4 linked regions of the Homo sapiens genome follow. The protein of the gene in region 3 interacts with the protein of the main gene of each other region in a pairwise test. Each region holds a gene or a part of one and is shown on either strand. Other genes may lie near its edges.

Region 1 (7,023 bases), on a different chromosome or scaffold from region 3:
AATCTCTGGATTTTGAACATTCTTGAAGGTGATGGAGTGGGATGAAACCCCACTTTACAAGTGAGAAAGTGAAGCTCAAAGAGGTTATGTAACTTGCCCAAAGTCTCACAGTCAGGCTGCCAGGGGTCTTACCACACCGCCCCACCCGAAATATTTTCATTGCATTCTCCCTAGCCACTGAAGCAACAAATGAATGCTAGCACCAAACCAAAAACAATAATATATAAAAATGAACACTTTGTTATTCCTATCATTAGGAACGGAGTCAAGTTTGCCTGAGGCGGATTCTACCTCCTAAACACCTCTGAACCCCACACCCCTCTTCCCCTTCTCCACTGTGACCTTCTTAGTCTCAAGGTCATCATCTTTCCCCTACAGTATTAGAACAAGCTCCTTATAAGCTCTCTACCTTCATTTTCCTGCCTCCAATCCATTTTCTTAGTTTTCTTTTTATTTTTCTTTTATTTATTTTTTAACTGATTTTTTTCTTCTAATGATATCCTGGAGTCATATTCCAACCCATTTTCACAGTGAGTTTCTAAAGCAGGTGGCCGGGCGCAGTGGCTCATGCCTGTAATTCCAACACTTTGGGGGGCCGAGGCAGGAGGATTGCTTGAGCCCAGGAGTTTGAAATTAGCCCGGGCAACATAGCGAGACCCTGTCTCTATTAAAAAAAAAAAAAAAGATAAAGCATAAATCTGAGCCTGTTGCATGTCTGATTTAATAAAAAGAAAAACCCCTCACTAGCACCCACTGGTTAGAGGATCAAGTCTACACCCTTGAAATTGGCATTCAAGGCCCCTCCCTGGGGATGCCATCAGCACTAGCCCCCTGGGATAGCTCCCTCCTTTCCGAACATAGCGAGTCCCTCCTGGAATGCCCATCACTCTCCGCTCTTCCTCTCCGGCAGCAAAGCTCTACTCCTCCTCTGAGACCCAACCCAAAGGTTCCCATCTCTGTGCAGGCTGCCCTGACCAACCACCCCCACTGCTTCCTGTGTCTGCACAATCCCCTGTGCTCCCTCCCATCTTCCACTGATCACACAGGTCTGTGGCTATGGTCAACTCCCCTCCCAGACCAGGCACTCCTCGGGGCAAGGTGGGGCCAAGACACTTGGCTCAGGGCCTGATACACAGGGTGCATTGGCTGTAAAAACTAAGTAACACCAAAGAATCTCAGCTACCAAAGTTGTGCAAACCTCAGAGAGAAACCTCCTTGGGGAAGCAAGAGGCAGTGCATGGGGAAAGTGAGGGAGGGGCCTGGACACACCCACCCCACGCCCTAAACGTACCTGTTTCTGGCCTGTGCCATCGTCATCCATGCCGTGCTGGGCGGCCATGGCAGTGGAGGTGTGCAGGGTGGCGGCGTCGAAGGGCACCCGCTCCACGTTGGCGATATGGCTGGAAAGGTAGGACAAGCCCAGGCCATCTGTCTGGTCTGGGTCCCGCCAGTTCTTGAAGAACTGCTTGAACAGTGGGGTCTCACCGCCCTCAGGAAGGACCGAGACCTGGGGAGGGGAGGCAGAGGAGCAGGATGTGGCTGGGCTGCCCAGCAGGGGTCCCCAGGGGAGCCTCAGATACCCCATCCACACTGAGGGTGGGACACCCGCCCTACTCCAGCCCATCCCCTCCAAACAGGACCCACCCCTTCCCATCCTACCTGGCCTCCAAGACTCACCTGAGTCTGCTTGGGGTAGTCCATCTTGGTGATGAAGTCAGAGGCTGTTTTGAGGGCAGCCTTCCTCTCCTCCGTGTTTGCCTGCTTGCCTGTTGGCAGCCAGAGGAAGTGATGGAGGGTTAGAGGCCCGGGATCCTGCTGCATCCTGACCTTTAACAGTCCAGGAGAAGGAGCTGCCAAACTTCCCTCCCTACTCTTCTTAGACTGTGGACAGCCAAGGCCAGAGACCCCCAGAGCCGACCACTCACTAGAGCTCCTGGTGTCCAGCCTGGGGCTGGCCAGTGACACCAATCACAACACTACTGTGGTCCATTTAGTGAGCATGTATTTTGTGCTTAGAACTATGCATAGATTATTTAATTCACAGAATAGTCTTAAGTAATAAAAAAAGTTGTTATCTTTTTCTGAGTATCTATAAGGAAGCTAGGGTCTTAGAGAGATTAAATTACTTGACCTAGGTTACTCAGTGAGTGAGAAGCTGCCACCCTGAGGGCATTCCCGTGCCAAGGAGCTCCTGGCCAGCCAGTGCTGGGCCTCAGTCCCAGCCTTCTCACTGCCAAGGCCAAGGTCCAGATCAGCTGGCCCAGGGCCCAGGGGGCCTAGAGAGTAATAATCATAATAGTGTCTCTCTCTCTCTCTTTCTCCCCACCGTCTCCCTTTCTCTCTGTCCTCCTACTGCCTCCCTCTCCTCTGTCCTCTTCCCCAAGATGAGCCTTAGAGAATCAGGGGAGGATATTGATGGGTCCTCTCAGAACATCTCAGGGCCTCTGGGAAACATCTGGGCCAATGGTTTCCAAGAGAATTCCCACAAGATAGTACCGAAAGAGTTTATGAACTTCTAGCTTAGCATTTCCCAAACCAGATCATCTTCATGAAAAGCCCCCCTGTAAATGAACAAGTTAAAAGTCCTACAGTAAACAAACTCGAACATTTTAAAATCCACTGTTGCCCATGAATTTATCTGACCATACAGTTAGATGTTTTCTACATAATTTCTACAGGATGCCAATTAGCCTCTCAGAGAACTGACGTTATAATGCACTTGGGAAACACCCATTTTAGCCCAGATCAGGAATCTGAGGCCCAGAAAGGGTAAGTAAAGTGCCCAAGATCACACAGTATGTCAAATGCAAAACCAAGGCCTCAGCCCAAGACTTCTGATTTCCATTGCACCAGGCACACTCCACACTCCCCGGGAGCTGAGTTCCTGGGAGCTGCAGAACATCCCATCCAAGATCCTACAGGCCAGTTGGGACCCTTTCCCTGTCTCCAGTACCTTTCCAGACAAAGATTTTCCCATCTTTGCCGTGGTCCAGGATGAAGCAGTCCTCTGACTTCAGGGCCCCCTGGGCGAAGGGGTTCTCATCAGCCACGAGGGAGACGGACATGGTCCCTGCACCATTGGAGACCTGAGGGGACGAAGCAGAAGGAACCAGCACATGAGTGTCTGTGGCCGCCCAGCCCTGAGACTTCCACCATCTTGCCCCACCCCCTGTCCCAAATGGCCCTGTAGAGTAACACCTGGGCTTCCTCTCGCACACATTTAGAGGTTCTTTTTCGTTTTCTGCTTTGTCAGAACCACATCTGCTGACCTACACGCAGGGGTAACACAAACTGCACATGGGAAGGGAGGGCGGGATAAAATTTGGGGAATTGGGTGCAGAGGGGAACTGCATAGTTTGCTGAAAATGTATTCAACTTTACTATTCAAAAAAAAGAGAAGAGGCCGGTTACAGTGTCGCACACCTTTAATCCCAGCGCTCTGGGAGGCCCAGGTGGGTGGATGGCTTGAGCCCAGGAGTTCAAGACCAGCCTGGGCAACATGGCAAGATCCCATCTCTACAAAAAATACAAAAAGTAGCAAGGTGTGGTGGCGCTTGCTTGTGGCCCCAGCTACTTGGGAGGCTGAAGTGGGAGGATCACTTGAGCCCAGGATGTCGGGGCTATAGTGAGCTATGATTGCGTCACTACACTCCAGCCTGGGTAACAGAGCCAGACTCTGTCTCAAAAATAAATAAGTAAATAAAAGAGAAGAAAAGAAAAAGAAAAGTAAAAAGAGCTAAATGCAATCTGGTATCCTGGATTGGAACCTAGAATAAAAAACTGGGGAAATCTGGCTAAAGTCTATAGTTTAGTTAATGGTACTGAAGCAATGTTAATTTCTTAGTTTTGACAAATGTACCTGGTTATGCTAAGATGCTAAGGAGAAGCTGAGTGAATGGTATATAGGAACTCTTTGTACTATCTTTACAATTTTTCTGTAAACTTAAAAATTATTCTAAAATAAAAAGTTCAACCAAGCTCAAAAAAAAGTTCTATCTTAAGAGTCAAAATTCAAAAGTTTAACAATATCCAGTTGGCAAGGCTCTGGGTAAACAGGCATTTAAGATCCCTGATGACAGTAATTTGGGAGCTGTTCCAGAGTACAGTTGACTGTGAGGTAGCAGTCCTTTAAATAATAATTATTCTACATGAATTGAGTACTTACTACTCTGTGCCAGTCACTGTTCTAAGCAATTTCTATAACTTGTATAATTATAGAACCCCTTTAATCCTTGCATATGATAGTTCTGTTACTATCCCTGTCTCATTCACAAGGAAACCAAGGCACAGAGTGGTTAAGGAACTTGCACAGCTAGAAATAGCTGACCTGGAATTCAAACACAGGTAGTCTGACTCCTGACTCCAAAACCAGTATTTTCTTTTTTTATTTTATTTATTATTATTATTTTTGAGACGGAGTCTCACTGTTGTCGCCCAGGCTGGAGTGCAATGGCACTATCTCAGCTCACTGCAACCTCCGCCTCCCGGGTTCAAGTGATTCTCCTCCCTTAGGAGGAGAGCTAGGATTAGAGGCACCCGCCACCACGCCTGGCTAATATTTTGTATTTTTAGTAGAGACAGTGTTTCACCATGTTAGCCAGGCTGGTCTCGAACTCCTGACCTCAGGTGATCCGCCTACCTCGGCCTCTCAAAGTGCTGGGATTACAGGGGTGAGCCACCATGCCTGGCCCAGAACCAGTATTTTCAACTACTGACTCATTCTTCGGCCTGTGACCAGCAGTTCCTTGTCTAGGAACTTGCCCTAGTGCTATGCTGTACTTAGCACAAGTGCACCAAGAGGGACTGTCTGCAACTGGAAAAGGTGGAACATCCTAATGTCCATCAATCAGGATTTGCTTAAATTCTTACATTCATAAAATAAAATACTATACAGCTGTTATAAAGGGTCGTGTTGAGATTTATTATAGAAAGATATTCCCGACCATGTTGAGTGGAAAAAAGACCACACAACAGCATGAATAGTTTGGATCCAGTTACACAAAATAGAAATGGCCGGGAGCGTTGGCTCAGGTCTGTAATCCCAGCACTTTGGGAGGCTGAGGTGGGCAGATCACATGAGCCCAGGAGTTTGAGACCAGCCTGGGCAACATGGCAAAACCTCGTCTCTACAAAAAATACAAAAGTTAGCTGGGCGTGGTGGCGTACATCTGTAGTCCCAGCCACTTAGGAGGCTGAGGCAAGAGATCGCTTGAGCCCGGTAGGCAGAGGTTGCAGTGAGCTGTGATTGTGCCATTGTACTGCAGCCTGGGTGACAGAGCAAGACCCTATCTCAAAATAAAATAATAAGATGGAAATGGAAAAGTAACTAGGCACAGAAAGCTGTGGCTGGACAAAGATGTGTTCTCTCATGAGGAGGAGAGGCTGATTTTTTAACTGGGTATTGTCATTTTTGTAATTAAAACATATTTTAAAAGTAATACTGGTTTTTTAAACCAGTGAAATTGCATGGACTTTTATTTTCTTTTTATATTTTGAATACTTTTTTTTCTTACAATAAACATGTATTACTTCATAATCAGAAAAAAAATCGATAATGTAGTAGTTTTTCTTTGGCAGTGGTGAAAATCGACATCCCCTTTTTGTTGTTTTACTGAAAATACTTGGGGCACAACGTAAGTGTGATTGAGCTTTCTCCCAGAGCTCAGCCAAGAGAGTTCCCTAGCTGAAGCTAAGCCTGAATTCAGTTGTGAAAATCACAAGAAAGAAATCATAAATAAAGTCATTAACTATAACCCACACCCCCAACCTCCCCACATACACACCATTTCTGTAGTATTTCCCCAAGTATTTTCTAAGCTGTTTTCACATCCATTTTATCTGTGGACTCCCAGAAATCCTACAAAGTCGACCATTCTGCTCTTCTTCCCACTTTACAGACTAGGACACTGAGACTCAGAGAGACCTCATGTATGAGCGTGACACAGATATGTACGGAGTTGATCGCATGCTCTTAGTGCAGGAAAGCAAAGGAAGTACACGAGCATCCACTGGAGACGTGAGAAAGCTGAGGCCCCCCTCCAAAGGGGTGCTTTGCTCAAGGTCCCATAGCAGTGGAGTGGGGAAGACCAAGTCTTCCACCTCCCTGTCCTGACCCCATGCCCAGGCAGACAGTGCATCTGGTGCTCACCTTGTAGAGCTTGGCCAGCTTGCGGTTGGCCGCATCCTCCTTGGCGGTGTCCTCGGTACCTGCAGGCAGAGCCGGCTTGGGGCCCAGCACCTGTAGGAGATAGAGAGATGGAGAGGAAGGGTGGCTGTGAGGGAGGGGCCAGGCTCCTGAGATAGCTCCCAGGCAGGCAAGGATCACAAGGACATCCACTGTGACCCTCCCCATGGAGTCTGACCTCCTCCAGACACATCCTGCATCTGCTCACATGTCCAGATCTGTCCATCAGAGGTCCCTTCCACCTTGTCTCCCTGACTCAGAAACTCCAGGAGAACACTCCTGCTCCTCTGCCTCCAGACAGCGCTTCAGATATTTCGCCTACCGGCTAATTGTGATAACTATAGCTACTGAACACCTTCTACCGCCTACCTTTAAAAGATGTCACTGCATCCTCGCAGCCAGGCCAGGAGGCACAGATTATCACTCTCATTTTACAGAAGAGGAATCTGAGGTCCAGAAAGATGAAGTCACCTACTCACACAGCTATTAGGTGGCTAAGCCAGAATCTGAACCTCCATCCCTGTGGCTTCAGAGCCTATTTTCACTCCCACTGTCCCTCCCAAGCCATGGTTGGTGTCCAGGTCCCTTCCCATAATAATAATCACCATTCTGCTCTCTCCAAAAGCTGGAATTGGATGCCCCCAGAGAAGCAGGAACCAAGTGACATGGAGCAGAGCTCATGGTCTTCTCCTTTTCCTAGTGAATCTTGCCTCTATTGATACGTCCTCAACGCACAATGGCTGGCAATCCCACCATGTGACTAAATGGGCCAAAAACTACCAGAAATAGTCAGAAGAGAAAAGAGGGGATTGGGGCTCAGTGGTCTCTTTCTGACCTTA
Region 2 (7,023 bases), on a different chromosome or scaffold from region 3:
GCGGTGGCTCACACCTGTAATCCCAGCACTTTGGGAGGCCAAGGTGGGCGGATCACGGGGTCAGGAGATCAAGACCATCCTGGCTAACATGATGAAACCTCATCTCTACTAAAAATACAAAAAATTAGCCGGGCGTGGTGGCGGGCGCCTGTAGTCCCAGCTACTTGGGAGGCTGAGGCAGGAGAATGGCGTGAACCCGGGAGGCAGAGCTTGCAGTAAGCGGAGATCGTGCCACTGCACTCCAGCCTGGGTGACAGTGCAAGATTCTGTCTCAAAAAAAAAAAAAAAAAAAAAAAAAAAACATACCCAGAACCTGGCTACTGCCCAGATTTCTGCAGCCCTGCCAGGTCCAGACCCCCACCATCTCCCACCTGGATGGGGACAGTGGCCTCCTGACCTGGCTCCCTGCTCCCACCTTGCCCATACACACCCCAAGGGATCCTCCTAACCCTCATCTTCCCCCATCTCACTGTGAGTGAAAGTCAAAGAAATTTCTGACATAAACCCAGAAGGCCCAGCACCGGGCCACTGAGTGCATGGTCTGCAAGGTAAGCACAGTGAAAGTGTTTCAAAAGCTCCTAGCAATGACATCGGCACAACATCTAAACATGGACACAAAAGGACCCGTCTGGATGGACTAGGAATTCAAGGAATGCTCCCAACCAGACAGAGTTGAGAGGCCCTGCCCCACACCTCCTCCAGGCCCACCTCTGCCACGCTCCACCCCCACATACTGGCCATGCTCCGTCACTCATCGCCACCTCACTGGCTGCCTTTTCTCAAACACCCTGAGCACACTCCCACCTCAGGGCCTTTGCACAGCTGCCCTTCTGCCTGGAAGGCTCTTTCCAACCTCCACAAGGCTCACCCTCACACTCCTTCAATCCTTGATCCATTCATACTGCAAGCCACCCTCTCTTACCTCCCCAAAGACACTCAAGCAAGACTGTTTTTGTTTTGCTGTTTTCCAGAGCGCTCATTACATAACATGCTGAATAATTTATATTGTGTTTTTCTTTCCCATTACCATATAAGCTCCACGAGGGCAAGGGGCTCTGTTCTGTGCTCAGTGCCTGGTGCCCCATGGGAACTCAATAAATACAGAGCAGAGGGCAGGTAGACCAGGCTTCAAAAGGAAAGCCCAGAGCTGTGCCTGCAGGCAGACGTCAGCAGGCCTGGGAAGGTCTGGAATGCTTCCGCCGGAACAGGAGGACCCCCAGACTGAGGGCAGGGGACACAGCTGGTGGAAGCAACTGAGGTCTGCAACGTCAAAGGCTCTGGGATGGCCCTGCAGGGCCTGGCATCTAAAGGGGCTGAGACTCAGGACCAGGGCATCCTTTATGAAGATGGAGGGTAGGTGAGACTGGGAGATAATGACAGCAGGAAATTGGTCAGAAGGCTGGCACTGAATTGAGGCCATGGAACAAGATGGACAATTCAAGAGACTTCCAAGGTCAGATCTACAGATCTATGTGGGAGGTGAGAGAGAGGGAGGGGCACAGGGAGGATGAGATGACATATGGCACATGAAAGAAAGCTCTCCTCAGACATCCTCATGATTATCGCCAGTCACACAAGAGGCCTTCCCGGCTGTGGCTGCTCTCATGTGAAGAGGGCTTCTGAGCAGTCTGCCTCCTCTGCCTCTGTGGGGTCTGCAGTCCCAAATGCACCCCTCACAAACATCTCTCCTGAATCACAGCCTGCATCTCACCTGACAGTTTTCTGAATGGCCGGCATCATTCTGACCTTCCCACTGCTGATTTCCAAGAAGGTGTGCTCCAAACAAATCCACTGGTGTGCATAGATTAAGCACTTACCTTATACTCAACCCTTTGTGAAGCATCAAGAAAGAACAGAGAAGAAACATGGCCAGAATCTTTGCCCTGGACTCCGACAGCCCCCTACCCTCTGACGGGGAGGGAGTGAGATGTGGAGAGGATGCCACACCCAACAGTTAAAGGATGAAATGCAATCCATATAACACTTGTTTGCTCAAAACTCATCTGGGGCATGAGAAATCTTCAAAGAAAAAAATACTCATTTTTATCTTCAACTCCTATCAGGGCTGAAGGACAACATAAATCCACACGGGGTGGATACCTTAAGCAACTTGCCAGGTTGGGGGAACAGGGGGCAGGTGGTGGGAGCGATATCCAAGCAGAGAGAACGGAATGGCACAGGCGAAGGTGCAGAGGCAGGGCCAAAGACAGCCGCAGTGGGGGAAGATGGCCAGCCTGCAGGCCTGCCAGGCTGTATTTAACATGCAAACGTCCCAGGAAAGCCAGTTTGCCAGCGGGAGAGCTAGAGGGCCAGGGTAACACAAAATTGGCCACCAAGGCTCAAAACAGACCTTGTCAGTTACCAAATGGGTAGAACATGGGAAAAACAAAAAGGGAACTCCATGGAGAGTTCCGCGGGACCTGCTGAGAACAGCAGCCTCTGACTATCTGGGGGGGTGAAATGGGCATGTAACTCCAATGCCTCTGGGTGACCCTTTAACGAATGCTTTTATCATTTACATTCTTTACAGTGCAGAGCTGGCCTTCCTTACGTTTTCTAATGTCAGTTTAGAAGAAGCCAAAATCCTGTATAAACTGTTAGGGGAAAACAGGGACATGAAGGAAAATATCCTAGAGTTAAATATAGTTATTACACAAATACCCAAGTCAAACAAGCTGTAATATTAATGAGGCATGAATGAACTGTAACTGTTTCCAGGGCTGAATAAAGGCTGGTCACCTTATCAGGGAAGTCGCACAAAAGCTCTCTGTCGTGCCCCTTCTTGTAAGAAGAGTAGAAGAGAACAGACACCTTTCTTCCCTGTAGCAGAGAACCCACTTGGGACCAATGGTAGACTGAGAGCATTTTCTTGTAGGAAACAGTGAAAATCTGTTTTCAGTTTAACCTGCTACAGTTGTAAGGCTCTGATCAGGATACATTATTAATTAGTAGAAAGAGAAGCCCCATTTTTAGTTACCCATTGAATTAGGTATCTTCAAACACCGTGACCTAGAATTGACAGTACAGCTAACTCTCTGTTTTCCATGGTAACAGGGATTTCAGGAAGAACAGCAGTTAATTGGGAAGCAAAAAAAAAATCCCATTTTATTCAGGGCAAGGCATACATTACTGCATTAAGGATAATGGCTTCCAATGACCATCACTGAGGATCTTATATTTGTCTGGTGTTGTGAGGTTTAAATCACACATTTCCGGTCCAACAAGCCAAGTTGTCTGACCCACCACCATGGGTGGGCCTGATAGGTGGCAGAGCCCCCTCCAGTTTGTCAGGGAATGGGAGCATGGGGAGAGCATGGGCCATCACCCCATGCCTTACCCAAAGAACAGCTCCCCTGCTAAACCTTTGACAGAACTTCTAGCAAGTGACATGTGATCCTGGAAGCGGAGCACGACCAGGCCACAAGCTCCCAGGAGAGAGGAAGAAAGGGCTCCTGGGCCTGCTGGAGGCCAAACCCCCAGGCCCAGAGGAGACAGGGAGAGAGTTGGCTGTACTGGCATGGCAAGCACACCCCCAGCAAGCTGCCCAGCATTTCTAGTAAGGAAAAAAGCAAACCGCCGTCCCACCTCGGGCTGCGCGGTCACAAGTGAGGCAGGGCTGGGACCAGTCGCCATTTGGGCGGGAGGCCAGCCCCAGGTGCGGCAGGAAGGGGTGGCGCTGGCTCAGTGGCTGCAGCTCCTCACTCTGACCCAGCGGGGCCCCTGTGCGGTGCTGGGGGCACAGCGAGGCCTCAGGCGCTGTGGGGCAGGGACACACACACACACACAGAGAGACACGCCATTAGAGGGTGCGCAGCAGCCCCTGCAGGAGGTACGGGCCAAGGCCACTCGGGGTCAACCCCGCAGCCCACTGCGGTGGAAGCTGTGAAAAGCCCACTGACCACATTCTGACCCTGAACATGCAGCTCAAGCGTAAGGTCTGAGGGAACCAAAAACATCACAGCTGGAACTGCAGCAGTATCATTTAGCCCAGCAGGACCTATGGCTACAGGCCCTGGACTCGGTATGAGGAGGAGGGGTGGATCAAACCAGGCTCCTGCATCCCCACTGTTCCAACCCCTGCATCTGCAAAGTTCCACAAATTGTTCATGGAACATGAAGCTGTTTCAGCTCCTTGCTTAGCATCCTCTGGCTTCTTGAGAATAATGACCATGAAAAGCACATAAAGAGAATGGCAGCTCCCCTTGGCCTGCATCAAAGCCACAGCCACAGTCACAGGGACAGAGGAAGTCAAGGCAGGTTGGGACCAACTCAATCCAAAGAGAGCCTCTCTGGGGGTTGGTAAGAGGATCCTTGAGAGAAATAAAACAATTTCACTTCTTAAAGGGCAATCTTCATTTGTTTTGGTGCAATTTAACCCTGCATTGAGGCTTCTGGAGATTAAGGTTAAATTGTTTTCAAGTGGTTTAACCAAGGTCACAACCTTTGCTTAAGCAAAACAGTTCAAACTAAGAAGAAAAATGACAACTACATATGGGACAAGAATATGTTAACCTGCTCCAAGCTCGGTAATAATTCAGAATTCCTAGAAGCAGGAAATCTGACTTTAATATGCAAATCTCTCATTTAACACATTTCTCAAAATGCTAGTGGTGGCGGTACAATGTCAAATCGAAACCTGCAAAAGCAGGAAATGTTAGTAAATGGTCTGGTAACAGAACACTGACTAAGTAAGGGTTGACTGAGGTCTGTCAAACTACAGACAACTTCCTTTAAAAAGAAGTTTTCTGCTATGCTGACATAGTGTTACTAGGGATCTGCACTTTTGTTTTAGCAGCCAGAAGATATAATTTCTACAATCCCCACCTCCATCCTCACCCTGTCCCCCAAAGGCCACTAGGGCCACCTGTCTCTCTGAGTGTGGGGTCCACACTGTGGCTGGAATAGCACTGTGAAAATGGAGAAACACCTGTTGGGGGACCACTTCCAATGAACAGCCAGGATGCCAATGTGACTCACAGAGACCAGCTTCCATCAGGCCCTGAACTCCACTCTGTTCCCTGAAACCTCTTCTGACCATAAGGCAAAGACCCAAATTAATCCAACATGCAAAACCAGAACTCAATGCAGACCCAGCCATGCAACCAGATCACTAGCAACTCTCATTTGCATGTTTGGCAGGGAGGCCTTGTTCACACTAGCAACCTGTACAAGTTTTTTTGCTGAAGTAGAATAATACTGAGCCATTCAAGAGACCTGAAGCTCAGTCAGCAGAAAAACACTTAATATGAGATTAAAGAAACAAGATTATCAAGAAAGAGCATTTGTTTCCTCCTGGCTACCAGAGTCAACTCCCCATTGTATGTGCAGCAGGACAACTCCTTTGCTGCCAGACCCATTCTGACAAGGAAGCAGAAAAGACCTGCCTCTGCCCACCGTCTGCCCAGATGTACAGAATGAGGCCCAGAGCAGCAAAGGGCGTTAGAGATCCCTGAACCAGAGCAGCCAAGGGACTAAAAGTCCCTTTATAACCAAAACTCAATCCAGACCAAGGACAATTTGCCTGGGCCACCAAAAGCTGGGTACTGAGGACAGGTTCGAGCTCTGCAGTGGCCACCACTCCCTAAGCCCAGAGACACCCACCCTGCCTGTCACCCATTGCTGCTGCTCTGGCAAAGGGTGAGAAGCACTTCCATTACTCACAGCCATGGTAGGAGGCCGGGGAGCCCCCGGCCTTGCCATACTCCTGCTCCGAGTGGCTGGTGGAGAGGTTGGGCTGGCTGGAGCCTCGCCCAAAGGTGATCTGGTTGCTGCCCATGCCAGTGGCAACCTGGGCCATGCGCTCTTTGGTTTTGAGAGCCTGGGCCCTCTCAGCCTTCAACCGTTCCTCGTCCTTGAGGAGAGCCACCAGTTGCTTTGACTTCTCACGCACATTGATGCCCTGGTCCTTGCCATCTCGGTCAATGTACTGGAAGTCCTTCAGGGTCTGGATGGCGAAGATGTTCTCCCGGCACTGCTGGGCCACACGTTCGGAGCCTGTCTTGATGAGGTAGTCCAGCAGGGTCAGCGCCTTGTACACATGCCGCCAGTTCTTGCCATGGTCATTCAGCCGCTTCCACACCATGCTCATGATCTCCGAGAAGGCCACCACGTTGTAGGTCAGGTCGGCAATCTCGGTCATCAGAGAACTGGACGGGCCCCACGGGTCATTGGAGGTGGCTTCCCGGACTTTGATTTCTGCCTCTGAGTAATTGTTCACGATGTTTTTCATCTGCCGTCTGATAGACGAAGTCGTCATTTTTATTTTCTTTGTTATAAGTTTAAAGCCCTTCAAACAGAGAAACCTTCCTGTCCTTGGTAAGTGCGCACCCTATGAAGGTTCAGTCTCCGTAATCAAGCTGGAGTAAGATCCCTGAATGGTCATTTCCTCCTTTGGAGCCTCAGATTCGAAAAGCTGGAAGCCATGACCTAGAGAAAGAGAAAACCCATTCCACTGCGACGTAAGCCCCCTGTGAGGGTGGGAGACTGTGGTCCAGCAGCAGGTACTGGGTAAAACTGGGGAGCTGAGTGGACATACCCAGCCTCCTTAGGACGAACCCAAGATAAAATCAATATCACCAGTCAACAATGAATAAAACTTACACTCAAGTTTAAGCCTTTAGGAGAAAAGAAGTAAACATCATGACTATTGCTCTATTTTCAAAACACTTCCACTGGAATGGCTATTTTATGGGTTGTCTTTTCACTGCCTGGCAAAAGCCAGCTGTGGAAGAATCGGAAACACTGGGGGAAGCTGATCTTGGCAGATTTAAAATTACATGTGAGACCAGATATGGTGGCTCACACCTGTAATCCCAGCACTTTGCGAAGCTGAAATGGGAGGATTACTTGAGGCCAGCCTGGTCAAAACAGCAATACCCCCATCTCTATTTTTTTAAAGTTTATTTAAATAAAAAAAAATACACATGAGGACAAGAAAGAGACTAATTTCAGGTCTATCTTAACTCAAAAATGCCTGTCAATACCTTCAAAACTGCTTTGGTCCACTGTGTTTCCGAATGTCCA
Region 3 (7,843 bases):
TCCAACAGATATCACTGTGAATTGAATAAATTTGTTGAAAGAGCACACAGGCACACATACACACAAACTGTAAACTAAGTTAATGAAGCCTGAATGGAAAGCAGGATCTGGCCTTACTTTGGCCTTGGCATGTCAGAAGGTATCACAACTACTATATAAGGGGAACTTGTCTGATGCCTGGAGGCTGTTGTTTATTTCCCTCATTAAAGGGGAAATCCACCTGTCTCCACAGGAAGCTCCAGATCTCCCAGAATGGGAGCTGTGTTGCCCTAGAGCAAGAGTTGGCAAGCTATGGCTCAAGGGGCCAAATCCACCTGCCACCTGTTTTTGTGCAATTGGAAGCTAAGAATGTTTTTACATTTTTAAAGAGTTGTAAAAGGGAACAACAGGAATGACAGAGACCCTACCTATGTGGCATACAAAGCCTAAAATATTTACTGTCTGATCCTTGACACAAAAAGTTTCCCCTGCCCTGGAGCAGTGGTTCTTAAGCACATGCATCAACCGGGCGCAGTGGCTCATGCCTGTAATCCCCACACTTTGGGAGGCCGAGGCAGGTGGATCACCTGAGGTCAGGAGTTCGAGACCAGCCTGATCAACATGGTGAAACCCGATCTCTACTAAAAATACAAAAAATTTGCTGGGTGTGGTGGCATACACCTGTAATCCCAGCTACTCGGGGGGCTGAGACTGGAGAATCACTTGAACCTGGGAGGTGGAGGTTGTGGTGAGCCAAGATTGCGCCACTGCACTCCAACCTGGGCGACTCCGTCTCAAAAAAAAAAAAGAAAACACATCAGAATTAGCTGGCAGGCTTGTTAAAGCACAGATTGCAGGATCCATTGCCAGATTCTGTCACTCTGGGCTGGAGCCTGAGAACGTGCATTTCTAGTCATTGCCCGGTGATGCTGATTCTGTTGGTCTTGGCACCATACGTGGAGGAGCACTGCTCTAAGGGGAAAGGGCCTCCTCCCCGAGGCCAAGGAATTCACTGCAACTTGATTTTTCTCCCCGTTTAAAAAAGTTAAAATATAACTCACATACCATAAACTTAGTCCTTTTAAAGTGTACAATTCAGTGGTTTTTAATGTAGTCACAAAGTTGTACAAGCATCACCACTAATTCCAGAATTATTTTGAGACAGGATCTCACTCTGTTACCCTGGTTGGAGTGCAGTAGTGCAATCACTGCTCATTGCAGCCTCAACCTCCTGAGCTCAAGTAATCCTCCTGCCTCAGCCTCTGGGGTAGCTGGGACCACAGGCTAATTTGATTTTTTTGATGAGGTCTCACTATGTTGCCCCAGGCTGGTCTCGAACTCATGGCCTCAAGTGATCCTCCTCCCTCAGCCTTCCAAAGTGTTGGAATTACACACATGAGCCACTGCATCTGGTCTCAGAACATTTTTCTTAGCCCCAAAAGAAACCCCATACCCATTGGCAGTCACTCCACATTCTCCCTACCTGCCAGCGCCTCACAATTCACTTCCTGTCTTTAGAGATTTGCGTATTCTGAACATTTCATGTAAGTGGAGTAATGCAGTATGTGGCCCTCTGTGTCTGGTTTCTTTCCTTAGGATAATGTTTTCAAGGTTCATCCATGTTGTAGCATATGCAATTTGATTTTAGCTGGTGTCTGAACAGAAAAGTCTGTCTTTGAGCTAGCTTCTTTAGGACAGGAGACCTGGCTTTATTTCCAAAAGCAAATAGGAAAAGGGAAACATTACCAGAGCCAGTAGAGCTTGGAAACAACTCCTGACTGATGTTCTTTCAGAACATACAATGTTTCCCCTTCCTTCTCAGCTCCTCAAGCCTCTTGGATTTCCTGTTCTCTTATAGACAACTGCTCTTTTGGAAATGTCTGGAAGGTATGTGGTGGCTATAATGTTCAGGGACATTCTAAAAAGTGGTCACTCAAACTGCATCTCAGTCTCATTTTGTAACATCTCTCTTCTTTGAGTTGGCTGCTGTGGGATGTTGAATAAGAGGCAGTTAAGGTTACTAAAAGGCCTTGGTGTGGGAAGTGCTAATCCAGACTGTCCTATCCAATAGCTCAGCTTGAGCTTTCAGGTAAAAGGAGAAAGGGAAGTTGGGGCAAAATCCCCTGTGTTTGCCAAACTGAATTGGGGTTTCTTATTTATTGAGAGAAAGAGGGTATCACTTTCTTGCCCAGGCTGGAGTGCAATGGTATGATCATGACTCATTGCTTCCTCAGCCTCCTGGACTCAAGTGATCCTCCTGCCTTAGCCTCCCGAGTAGCTTCTTTTTCCTGAGTTCGGCTAGAATAGCATGGGTAAAAGGTTCCATTGCTCGGGAGAGGAGGAGGAAGGGAAGAAGAAGAGGTATAGAAGCTTCCTTTTGATCCAAGGTCTTTTCCTCAATCCTGGCTAGAACCAGAATCCTAAAGGTTTCCTGACTACAGGTACATGCCACCATGCCCAGCTAATTTTTAAATTTTTTGTAGACAGAGGGCCTCACTATGTTTCCCAGGTTGGTCTTGAACCCCTGACCTCAAGCAATCCTCATGCCTTGGCCTCCCAAAGTGTTGGGATTACAGGCGTGAGCCACTACATCCCACCTGGGGTTTCTTAGTGATGATGAAACCTAGCCTTTATGTGGAAGACTTACAACTTTTTGAGGCCAGGAATTAGAGACCTTGTGCCATGAAAATAATTTGGTCCTTCCCTAGTACTCAATTTTTACTTCTCCTCTAAGGAGCTTGACTTGTGGAATGGATAAATTTCTAAGAAACGAGAGATTGGCAAAAATACGTGTCACTTTTTATAGTACTTGGAAAAGCAGGATCAAGATAAAGGCAGAACTATGGACTTTCTTAAGCTGAGGGAAGACTGACTTAACTCTTACCTGTTTCCCATTTTTCCAACACTTAAGCCAAGAACAACTTCCTCTGGGCTCAGATGTGGGCTAGACTGGGCCAGGCTGTAAAACACTTTGACAGGTTTTTGAGAGGAAATTGACTGCTAAAGTCAACTGTGTTATTTGCCATGGGTCTTCCTTTGTCCATTTATTTTACCAACTTTTTTTTTTCTTTTTTTTTTGAGACAGAGTCTCACTCTGTCACCTAGGGTGGAGTGCAGTGGCACAGTCTTGGCTCACTGCAACCTCTGCCTCCCAGGTTCAAGCGATTCTTCTGCTTTAGCCTCCTGAGTAGCTGGGACTACAGGCATGCACCACCACGCCTGGCTAATTTTTTGTATTTTTAGTAGAGATTGGGTTTCACAATGTTGGCCAGGCTCGAACTCCTGACCATGTGATCCGCCCACCTCGGCCTCCCAAAGTGCTGGGATTACAGGCAGGAGCCACCGCACCTGGCCTTTTTTTTTTTTTGAGACAGGGTCTCACTCTGTTGCCCAGGCTGGAGTACAGTGGCACAATCAAGGCTCATTGCAGCTTCAATCTCCCTAGCTCTGGTGATTGTCCCACCTCAGCCTCCCAAGTAGCTGGGACTACAAGTGTGCACCACCATGCTTGGCTAATTTGGCTAATTTAGTTTTTTTATTTTTGTAGAGACAGGGTTCTCTCCATGTTGCCCAGGCTGGTTTCAAACTCCTGAGCTCAAGGGATCTACCTGCCTCAGCCTCCCAAAGGGCTAGGATTATAAGCATGAGCCACCACACCTGGCTATTTTACCAACATTGATCAAGCTCTGGTTGAGCCTTGTACAGGATATTATAGGCTTTAAAAGAAGAAGAAGAAAGACCTGGTATGCTGTACAAAAAACTGCAAACCAGGCACGCAGATATAAGTGTTACAAGAATCCAGAAGAAGCAGCAAGGAGATGGGGCTAGGAGTTTGTAAGCAGGGAACTGTATCTGTAATATGTAAATGAAGTTACTGGGCATCTCTTCAATGGTCAGTGTGAGTGGAATGTGTGGGAAAATGTAGTGGTGAGAGGTGAGATAAAGAGAAGTAGACAGGGACGAAGTCACAGAGAGGACCGTGTTGGGAAGTTTGGACTCTCTATTCTGTAGGTAGATGAAGTATTTAAAAGAAGAGGCCATGATATAGTAATATTTGGTTTAATGTGGTATGGTTGTAGTGTGTGGCGGAAATTTGAGAGGAAGAATTGTCAACTTGCAGGGCAGCAGGGAAGCCATTTGTATTTAGCTAGAAGAACATGGATTGAAGCAATGGATGATGGATTTCAGAGCAATTTGTGAAGTAGAACCAGAATTTTGTCCGTCGAACTTGGGGTGACGAAGCACTATGCCTCAGATAAAGGTACTATCTTCTAGGGAATTCAAACGGACCTAAGCTGCTATTTGGGCAGTTGAGACCAAGAGAGGCATCCTGGTAATAGTGCTGTGCTTCAAGACAAAAGACATTAAAATATTTTTACATTGCAATTGTTTTCCTCTTCAGGAGCGCCTGGTTACCTTTCAGGAATAATTTATTTTCCAACACCCTTGAGAAACATTAAACCTTTTTTCTTTTTTTGATGTGGAAAACTGGAAAACTAGTACTTCCGCCACACTCAAGATGGCTACATCAGAAATAGACTTTTCCATCCACCTGGGTGGCCCCGCCCCCTTATGAAGCTGCTTCCGCCACTCTCTGCGGGTTGGGACGAATTTTACACTTCTTCGCAGCATTCAAGATGGTCCGGCTTCCTCCTACTTTTTATTGGCTGCATCGCTTCGTCTTCAGGGGAAGGCGGGACTTATATTTGATCGACAGCTACATTGATCAATGGACAAAGGGCAAAGGCCAATGAAGCGCTGGAACTGGAGAGTCTCTCGCGTGTCTGGGAGGGTGTTTTGCGCGGGGCGGGGTGGAGCAGAGCCGGAAGCGGGAGGGGAGCGTCAAACAGGAAAAGAAGGGAAGAAGGAAGAAGAGGGTAGAGGAGGAGAGGGAGGAGGAGGAGGGAGGTGGCGGCGCCGTGGCGGAGGAGCAGGAGCAGGAGGGGGATGGAGAGGAGAAGGCTCCTGGGTGGCATGGCGCTCCTGCTCCTCCAGGCGCTGCCCAGCCCCTTGTCAGCCAGGGCTGAACCCCCGCAGGTAAGGGGGAGGGGGCGTCTGGGCCATGTTGGGTCCTGGGGGTCGTCGAGGCCTGGCTGGAGGGGTCTGAAGGAGTGTTGTTGCCAAGAGTTGAGGGGTCCCGAGAGGGGCGTCTATGCCTGGCGTGGACAGGATCTAAAGGGGCGTCGGTATTTAGCTGAGGGACACCTGTGACAGTTTTGGTGTCAAGGAGGTGGCAGAGGCATGATGCCAAGCGAGTGAGGGGCGTTTGAGACGGCAGGTTGGTTAGGTGGGCTGGGGTGACTGTGGCTGGATAGCGGTGCCAAGCTGAGGATGTGGGCCTTATTCGTGTCCCTCTGTGGAGCAGGTGTCCCAGGCAGTAATGCAGTATGTACGTCTGTGTGTGTAGGGGTACACAGGCTATTGAGTTGGCCTGTGAGGGAGGGGATCCTGAGGATATTTCTTTAAGGATGGACTGGGGAAAGTTCCGAGGGCATCTTAGTACGTTTAAAAAAAATTACTATGTTCCTGGGAGAGACTTGGCCCCATTTTAAAATCTGTAAGCCATGGCGCACTTGGTTGGAGGGAGGACTCTCAGAAGGCAGGTGGGATGAAACAGAGTGGAACCCCTCAGGAGGAGGAGCACACTTGAGCTGTAACAAGCTCTTGCTGTTAGGCTGGCTGGCCTGGGAGAGCAAGTCACGGATGCTGATCTGAGCCAGCTCAGGGCTTTTGACCAGAGGGTGGTTCTGATGCCAATATGGGCAGCAAATGGAGCACCCTAGCTTTTCTTGCTGGGTGGCTTGCTCTTTATCCAGGCAGAGAAGCTTGCTTGTGCTGATTCCAGCTCCAGCTGGCATTTCAAAACCCTAATGGGAGCGTTACTCCTGGTGCCAAGTTGGGTGGGGTGCAGTGGGGGCAATCACCCCTCCTTCCTTGCATGTGGCAAAGCTTTATGATTCTTTTTTCTTCACTTTCTGTTCTTTTCCCCGTTTTTTCAGAAAGGCATACACACATAGACGCATAGCGTAGTGGCAAAGTTTATACAACTTAGCGCTTGAACTTGTGTTGTGAACAAGAGCAGAAACTGAGTGCCAGCAAAAATACTTATCTTTTCCCTAGGAGTTTTAGGGCTGCCTTTTCACAAATACATCTTGTTTTGCCCATTATCCTCTATTTTAAAATACTGATTAAAAAATAAGTTGAAATTCACATGACAAAAACCATTTTAAAGTGAACAATTCAGTGGCATTTAGTACACTTACAATGTTGTGCAACTACCACCTCTATCTAGTTCCAAAACATTTTCATCACCCCAATAGAAAACCTCGTCCCTACTAAGCAGTTACTCTCTGTCTCCCTTTTCCCCCAGCCCCTGGCAACCACCCGTCTGCTTTCAGTCTCTATGGATTTATCTATTCTGGATATTTTATATAAACGGGATCCTACAATATGTGGTCTTTGTGCCTGGCTCCTTTCACTTAGCGTAATGTTTATAAGGCCCATCCACATCGTAGCATGTACTAGTACTTCATTCCTGTTCATGACCAAGTAACATTCTGTTATCTGTAAACCACAATTTATTTATGCATTGAAGTGTCTAATTTTTCCTCAGGATATGTTTGTGTATACTAGAAATACCATGTGAAAGGAATGTAGCTCATTTTCTAGCCCAGTGTATTCCCTTTTCGAGGGTTGGGACCCTTCTGTTTTAGCCTTTGTTGGGGTTGTTTTTCCAGTGGAAATCATAAACTGGCAGAAGAAATATATTTTTTTTGTTTACTAGAAATGTTATAGCCCTCAGGACCAGTAAAGTTAAGTATAGGTATTGACAACAAAATATAGAATATAGTAAATACAGAATTTACTTTTCCTTTGCACATGTCTGTTTCTGTAAGTATCTCGAAAAGGCTGTCCCCAGTAACCAATAAATAACATCGGTAGAGGTTTGGTTTAGGAATGTCAGAGCCTTTGGAGATGGGCTGGTCAAAGATAGGAACTAGATCCACTTTTTCAGCAACGGGGATGATGGAAAGTGGAGGTTCCTACCAGGTCGTGGAGCCTGGGAGGTGTTGTGAACATGTGGAAGGGGATTGTTAATGTTATATTCTAATTGCAGTTTGCAAACCACAGGCTGCTTTCTTATATCTGTGGCACTTCTAATACTTAATTTTGGGGACAGGTGTCTTTTGTACTTTGTTCCATTTGGATGAATGCTATCACTGACCAACAGCTGTTACACGGTTACAATTCCTGCAGAGAAGGGAAAGTTTTCGTAATGAGCAGTGGCCCTCTTCCTAACCAGCCCCCACATACCCTCACTCCTGACGCTCCCTATACAATTCCATCCCCCACCTTATACTCCTGTCTCTTTCTGTCTGGGAGTACTAGATATCTATAGTGAGATTTCTGTTTTGAATTTTAACCTTCGGAATGCAAGTTACTATATAATTATTAACTCTGAATCCACCGCAATTTAGTCAGTGTATTTTTTTGGGTTTTTTTGGGGGGGGTGGGGGAAGGGGTTGCTTGTACAAATCAGTAAGGAAAAAAAAATCCCAAGGCCATTTTGGCACAGGGCATACTTTAAGTACCCATGGTCCTTAATTCAACAATGAAGTCCAGCTAACTTTGAATTCAGGAGGACTTACTATACTCATTCTGTATCGAATAATGGTATTGGTACCTTATTGCATTTCTCCCACAAAATTGATCTACTTACAATACAATCTTTTTTTTACATGCACAATCTTTTTTTTACATACACATTTACCATCAGAAATAAATGATACTAGGCAACTTGCTTTCCCTGTTACCAGCTCTGCACTGAAACAGCCATTTCTTGTTTATGCAGGCAGGCCCTGGA
Region 4 (6,893 bases), on a different chromosome or scaffold from region 3:
TGACATGGCAAGGTGGGTGTGCAGGGTTTGCTGCATAAGACGTGGGGAGCAGGCCCTTCCTCACTCTTCACCAAGATAACAAGAGGTGAGCAATGAAAATTGGGGGTACTGCTAGTAACACCATGCAGGTTGAACCTGGAAACCAGCAGAAGCACTGGGTAGGTGAAATCGGATCCTAGAAAGCTCATGAGCCGTAAGCAGGAGGGGGCAACCATGGGCTCCTGGGGTGGTTGTATGCAGGAAGAACTGAAGAAGGAGGCGGGAGGGGCCAGGGAGGCTGCACAGTTGTGATAACAGTAGGCACATCAGGGACCGGGGAGGTTTGGGGACCTGCTGCCTGAGGAAAGCTCAGGTTAGGGGCTGAAGGCCTAGGGGGACACAGAGATGGGAAGGGTTAGATTAGCTAGATTGTCTAGAGTTAGGGTTTCCCAAAGCCCAGCTCTTTGGGGCCTCTGCTCTCCCCACTACCTGCCCCTGGCTCCCTGGACACTTGAGAAGTTATACAATTAGCCTGATAGTAGAAAAAATACCTTTTTATTAATTATTAGGAATAATCCATTCATGTAATGCAGGATGTATGTTGGAGAAGGTTAAGTACAGCCACATGAATGAGGGGAAACGTGCAAGAGGAACAGTGGTGAGAAGGGGGATGGTCCCCCACTTTCCACAAACTATAAACAGCAACATGAACACAGAGAATCACAAATAAGAGGGTCTTTCCTCATGTCTCCTCTCACCCCATTCTTCCATAATGAGTCCCAGTTGGTCCCTAGAGGTGCCAGGGCATCTGGAAGTTCTGGGCTGGGAGTGGGGTGCAGTGAGTGGCCTCAAAGTTGTGCAGATGCTTCCGAGCCTGAGGAAAGGAGGTGGGACAGGTGGGGTACAGAGCACTGTTGGGAGGGGCAGCCACTGGACTCCCTCCCCACCCTCCACTTCCGCATCCACCACCCACTCTACAAAAGCTGCCACTTCCAATGCTTATAGGGTATCCCCAGTCCCCCTATGTGAGCCCTGGCCATTCAAGAACCCTTCCCACTTCCCACTCCTTAGCTCACCAGAAACAAAGCCAGCTGCCGCCGTCCATCTGCACTCATGTCCTCCCCTGCAGAGAGGAGGCGCTCAAAATAGGCCACACATCTGGGTATTCATCCCCTTCCTAGGCCCTTCCCACCCTCTCTCCTGCCCCAGGAGCTCCTTACCCACGCTCCAGGGGAAGTCGGGCCCGTGTTCTGCCTGGTAGGAGCGGAGGACAGACAGACACCAGTCCTCTTCCACCTCCCATCGGCTATAAATTGAGGCTGGTCAGGGAGAGAGATGACAGCCAGTCAGCAACCTGACCTTGCTGGGCCCCCGCCCCAAGCCTCACTGGATCCCTTCTCACCTTCCTCCAGCTGTGAGGAGGCCTCCAACCACTGCCTCACCACTCGAAGACCCTCCTCTGCCATCACCCGGGGATACCTACGGAGGAAGTGCCAGGACAGGTCAGGGCTGATTTTTTTTCATTCACCATCCCTGAACCTTCCTCCCTCCTTCCCTGTGCTGGTATCAGTATCTGTGTGTGTACACTGCCCCCAGCGCGCACACACCCTGGCTCTCACCGATGCTGCAGGAGCTTCAGCAGGAGGTCATTGCCTCGGTTGGACATGATGTCCTCAGGAACCCTGGGGGTGAGAAGAATGTACCCTGGAGGGGCTGGAGGTTAGGAGGAAGGGTCTAGATACCCAGGTTTCTGGTGGGCAGAGGTAGAAGGGACAAGTTCCTGGCCATCTCTGGGGTTCCTGAGGGCCGAGATTCCCACGCACTCACGTGGTGGTGATGATCTCATCCTTGGTTCTCCGGATCAGCAGTACAGGACCCTGGTATCTTCAGAGAACAGAGCAGTGGGAAGGGAGAGCTCAGAGGGAGACGGGTGACAACTGGCCCACCCCTATCCCTGCACTGGTAGCATTCTTACCCTCCCCTTGCTATAGCACAGCCCTTGACCTAGCCCTTCACTCAGGGGTGAGAGGGGATTATTTAAGGGGCATGGTTCAGTCTGGCCCTGCTGGGAGACCCCTGCCGTGCCAGGCCTTAACCCTTTGGTTGCCAGATCCTGAGGTGGTCCAGAGTCCCAGGGGACCTGGGAGGGGTTAGGCCAGTTGAGGTGGTGGCAGGGTCACTCAGGATGTGAGCCAGTGGCCTTTTACCAACTTGCACTTTAGTACTAGTTTCAGGGTTTGAGCGCCCAGCAGAGCTGTATGGGGGGCAGGTGTTCAATGCCGGACGCTGGCCGGCCCTCACCTGCACAGCTGCTCCGCGTTGTTTAGATTGAGATGCTGCCTCACGGTCCTGGTCACCAGGCCCCCTAGAGTGGGATAAAGGTGAAGGGATGGCAGAGACAAAGCCCTTGCCCAACATAAAGGTCCTCACTATTCACGGAGAAAGAAAACTGAGGCCCCCAGACAAAGGAGTCCTCCTGCTTCCAACAATGGGGCGACTTACTCCCCACCCAAGAAAAGGGAGCCATCTCAGAACAGTTCCCAGTTCCAGCCCACCCCTTCCCAGGAAGGGCAGGCCTGGGAGCTGCACTCACTCCAGCTGTCTGGCATGACCTTCAAGGCCAAGGGCACCAGGTCATCAAAGGAGGCATCCAGGATCATGGCACTAACATCTGGGTAGGACATGGCTGCCCACGTGGCTGGTACCAGGGCAGGGAAGAAGAGTAAGAACTGAGAAAGGCTCCTTTCTCCCCACCACCCATGCTCTCATCCCACTGACCCTATAGGCCAACCCCATTCCCCCTATGTTATCCCTTGTTTTTTTCTTAACCTACTTCACTTGGTTAGGGAACTATCTGGAGAGGATGGGGATAGAACACTGGAGATAGTGCACTGAAGATAATGGGCAGGAAACATTCACTTTCCCTGATCTCCCCACCCAGGACCTGGGTCTGCTTTTCCTTTTAATGACTGGGCACAAGAGGGGAAGGAAAGGTGAAGTGTATGCAAATAGGATAGCTTCTTCCAGGCCCACTCAGAGATTCTACTTCCTCTCTCTTCTTCCTTGAGCCTCCACCCCACCCCATTTCCCCACCTCTCCCGGGTGGGGCTGGGTGGTCATGAATGTGTCTACAGTGGGGGATGGGAGGGAGGCTGGTACCAGTGAAGCCGCCGATGGACCAGGCGTAGATGATGATGTCCTGGGGCTGGAAGCCTAGGCGGTGGATGGCAAACTGGACCACCACATCCATGGCATTAGCCTCATTCTGCGGGAATGGCACCCCCTGCAGGAGAAAGGGCAAAGTCAGGAGTGTGTCAGCACCAAAGGCCAGCTCACCTGTCCCTCCCAACGTGGACCCCTCCTGCAGCCACCTATGACAGGCAGAGAAGGTGTAGAAGGAAGGGATGGTAGGAGAGGTTGTTCTCTCCAGAAGACGGATGTGTACAATGAGATCTACCTCCTCCTCTCCTGCTAGCCCCGCACTGTGGGGATGGGGGCATGGCTCCCAATGCTGCCTTCACAACCTCCTAGACCCCAGCCCTCAGGTGAGTGGGACGCCTTCAAGAAATCCACAGCCCCTCTCCTCCCTCCAATGGCTGACCAGAGGGAAACAGACATAATTCAGGAAAAGGAAGGGATTCCTGAGATGGTCTCACCGTGCTTCCAGCAAAGCCTGGATGATTCCAGCCCAGGACTGAATATCCAGCTGTAACACAGGGGGAGGAGGGACTGAGACCTTGTGGCCCACAGCCCTTTCTCCATCCCTGGGGGAAGGAAGAGCAGAAGTACCCCCCAGCTTAGATGCAAATAACTCCAAGCCTTCCCAGAAATAGGAGATGACACCAGAGGTTCTGAGGCAGCACAGGGAGCAGCATGTGATTGTGTGGGGTGTGTGGTGGGGGAATGGAACAGAATGAAAAGCATAATAGCTAGGGACACAGGCCAGGGGAGGGATGTAAGGTTATCAAAGCAAATGGCGAGTGGACTTTTCCCTAAAGCTGAGAGACTCAAAACCTCACCCAGAGAAAGCAGAGGCCAGGGGAGGTCAGGTCAGTGTGGGAGGCAGGGACATTCCCTTTCAAAGGGCGGAGATAAGGAGGCTGAGTCACCGTCCTACCTTCCAGGGGCGTGGAGACGCAGCCCACCTCATAAAACCCAGCATTCCCCTCACAGCAGATCACCTAGGAAGGAGGCAGGAAGGAAGGGCTGGGGGGCCAAGTTGGGACTGAAAAACTCCCTTTGGGCAGGGAGGGCAGCCCATGAAGAGCTTTGCAGGGAAGAGGAAAGGGCAGGTTTCTGTTTTCTCCAAGGGGAATGGAAGCTTCTCATTCCACAGGGTCCATAAGAGGAGAAGCAAAGGGATTACAAATACTCCTCAGAGGCTGACCTGCTCGACCACCCAGCCATGTCTTTTCCTTGGAAGATTACCAGCTGGATCTCTTTCAGGAAGGGGACTATGGAGATGTTTTTCCTTTCTCGTTTTCGGGTCTGTTATCTTCTGTGACCATTGCTATTGTGTGGTATGCTGATTGCTCTCCCTATCCCTCTCTGAGCTCCAGTCTTATGGTCAGATAAACTGTAATGCCATGGCGCCCCAAGCTGAAACCCACGAATGGTGGGATTTGCATGAACTCTCATAACAGATGGGCAGAGCCAGGACTAGAACCCAGCTCCCTAGACTCCTGGCTTAGCGCTCTTTCCACGGCTGCTTCATGGAGGTAGGAGACTTTGAGGCCAGGCTGCCTGGGTCCAAATACCAGCTCTACCACTTACTGTGAGGTCCAGGAAAGGTTTTCTGTGCCCCAGTTTCATCTCCTGTAAAATGGGCTAATATAAGCAGTACCTATCTCACGGGATTCTTTTGAGAATTAAATATATATGCTTCATATATATATGAGAATTAAATATATATAAGTGTGAAGTGCTGTCAAAGTGGTAACTATTAATATTAGTTTCTCGTCCTTGAACGTCTCTCCTACTTCATCTGTTTCTCTATCACAGGGTTTCACTACATCACAAGGTCTTTAGCGTGGAGCTAGGACATGAGATTATCCCCAGTAGTGGTTCCTTCAGGGAGGTGCTATAGCATTGGGGTCCCCAGACCTCTACTGCCTTCCTCACACTCACCCCACCTCTGGGCTCTCTGCTCCCTCTTACCAGCTTCTGTCCCTGGGGCTCAGCTGTCCCCCGCCGGTCCACAAACATGGTGTCAATCTCATTGCCATCACAGGCCAGCAGCTTTGCCCGGCGCCCATTACACTGAGTACGGAAGACGCAATGGCCAAGATGCAAGGGTCAGGAGGCCACATCACAGGGGTGGGGCGGGGTGGGTGGGGGTGAGAGGGGAGGGCTTTAGGGGATGTGCGGGCAGGGAAGCCTCACCTCTTCCACCAGTCGGGCCTGGCCCTGCAGCAGCACAGGCATGAGGGCCTTCTGCAGCAGGTACACAGAGCCTGGATACAGCATCCGGCGCCCTAGGGTGTGCGCCACCAGGTAGCTGTGGGGAACACAGGTTAACAAACCCCAACCCTGTTGAGGCCTGGGGACTGTGCTGGGGACCATCCCAGCCCTAGCACTCACAGACTGTAAGGCCTGCTTTACCCCTGACCTTCACAGCTTTACTTTCCTCTTTCAAGCCTTAATGAAATATGTACCAGGCTAGTGTTTTGCAAACTTTTCTTACTGCAACCTTTGTAAGATAAACATTTTATATTGTGGCTCAGTGCACACATATCCTGTATGTACAGAATTCTGAGAGTTTTATGATGTAACTGTCTATACATAATAAGTAAATGCAAAGTTATCATCAGATTATGATTCTGTTAAAATATAAGTACAACATATTAAAGGTCCCCAAATAAATAATGCTTTAAAAAATGATGGTTATAATTCAAAACCTCAAATATGGCTTGCCTCCCTGACTAATTAGCACACTGTCAACAACCAACCACTAAGTCCACCCTGTTCCTTGGTATTCTAGAAGCTGCCTCCTAACTCCCAGCAAAAGAAAATTCCCAGTGTCTGTTCCACTATAAGATATAGGTGGTTATTTCCGTTCCTTCTGACATCATCAGTACCCACGACTGAGCTTTATTTGGGATTTACCATGTGCTCTCAAGCACCCAGGCAAGGCAGGAGCCCTTCAGAACATGTTACCTTACTTAATCTCCTCAGCAACCTTGCAGGGCAGGTTCATCACAGGTGCAGACACTGAGGCACACAGGGGCCCGGAGCCAAGGTGGAATAACAACAGGGCAGAGGGGCCACGATGGGTACACAGATGCTACCAGAGCCTGCCCTAGCTACAAGTGTGTGTCCTCCCCACCCCCACCCCACCCCCACTGCTCCTTTTCAGCCTCACTGAAGGAGCTTTTGTTCATATCCCAGTTCTTTACTTACTACATTTGAGACTCCAGACCTCTCTGAGCCTCTTTTCTTCAAACATAAATATGGATAAAAATGACTTTGCCATAAATGATCTACACAAACCATACAGCACTAGGCCCAATGAGTGACAGCTATTTTACAATGGAGCGCCCACTCCCAGAGCACTCCTGAAATGGCCCCTCCACCCCAGTGGGCCTCTCCTCGCTGCTGTTTCCCACCTGGTGATCTGACAAGGCAGCTTCTTAACCCGGTTGAGGAGGGTGTCTGCTGTCCCCCGGTGCAGGGGCTCTGGGCGAAGCAGGGCCACACCCCGGCGGGAAGGGCCCCCTCGAGACTCCTTCCTGAGGAAGGGAAAGATGCAGGGAAGGATAGGGTCAGGAGCAGCAAGCTGGATGTCTGAGGTCTGGAGAACAGTGGGGTCTAGGAACGACATAATGGCATTGGAAGGCAGGCACTGTGACCTGAGAGGGCATGGAGGTGGGAGGGCAGAGCAGAGATTTTCTGGAATGGTTCTAAGGGGAGAGATA

Evidence for each region.
Region 1: the proteins of WBP1L (region 3) and GSN interact in binary tests that used the Homo sapiens proteins (3 or more experiments, as listed by UniProt).
Region 2: the proteins of WBP1L (region 3) and EPN2 interact in binary tests that used the Homo sapiens proteins (3 or more experiments, as listed by UniProt).
Region 4: the proteins of WBP1L (region 3) and ABHD16A interact in binary tests that used the Homo sapiens proteins (3 or more experiments, as listed by UniProt).

The regions. Positions count from the first base shown.
Region 1 is NC_000009.12:121,313,149-121,320,171, reverse strand, and holds part of GSN (gelsolin), read right to left. Parts: intron 6,239-7,023; coding exon 6,149-6,238; intron 3,087-6,148; coding exon 2,954-3,086; intron 1,767-2,953; coding exon 1,678-1,766; intron 1,508-1,677; coding exon 1,292-1,507; intron 1-1,291. UniProt on the Homo sapiens protein: Calcium-regulated, actin-modulating protein that binds to the plus (or barbed) ends of actin monomers or filaments, preventing monomer exchange (end-blocking or capping).
Region 2 is NC_000017.11:19,282,353-19,289,375, reverse strand, and holds part of EPN2 (epsin-2), read right to left. Parts: intron 6,427-7,023; 5' UTR 6,257-6,426; coding exon 5,662-6,256; intron 3,757-5,661; coding exon 3,586-3,756; intron 1-3,585. UniProt on the Homo sapiens protein: Plays a role in the formation of clathrin-coated invaginations and endocytosis.
Region 3 is NC_000010.11:102,739,128-102,746,970, forward strand, and holds the start of WBP1L (WW domain binding protein 1-like isoform 1 precursor), read left to right. Parts: upstream 1-4,820; 5' UTR 4,821-4,926; coding exon 4,927-5,016; intron 5,017-7,843.
Region 4 is NC_000006.12:31,686,443-31,693,335, forward strand, and holds the end of ABHD16A (phosphatidylserine lipase ABHD16A), read right to left. Parts: intron 6,708-6,893; coding exon 6,585-6,707; intron 5,477-6,584; coding exon 5,362-5,476; intron 5,239-5,361; coding exon 5,137-5,238; intron 4,875-5,136; exon of another isoform or gene 4,316-4,874; intron 4,161-4,315; coding exon 4,097-4,160; intron 3,686-4,096; coding exon 3,636-3,685; intron 3,525-3,635; exon of another isoform or gene 3,263-3,524; coding exon 3,139-3,262; intron 2,678-3,138; coding exon 2,573-2,677; intron 2,345-2,572; coding exon 2,281-2,344; intron 1,864-2,280; coding exon 1,807-1,863; intron 1,662-1,806; coding exon 1,599-1,661; intron 1,459-1,598; coding exon 1,382-1,458; intron 1,299-1,381; coding exon 1,200-1,298; intron 1,103-1,199; coding exon 1,056-1,102; intron 854-1,055; coding exon 770-853; 3' UTR 513-769; downstream 1-512. UniProt on the Homo sapiens protein: Phosphatidylserine (PS) lipase that mediates the hydrolysis of phosphatidylserine to generate lysophosphatidylserine (LPS). LPS constitutes a class of signaling lipids that regulates immunological and neurological processes.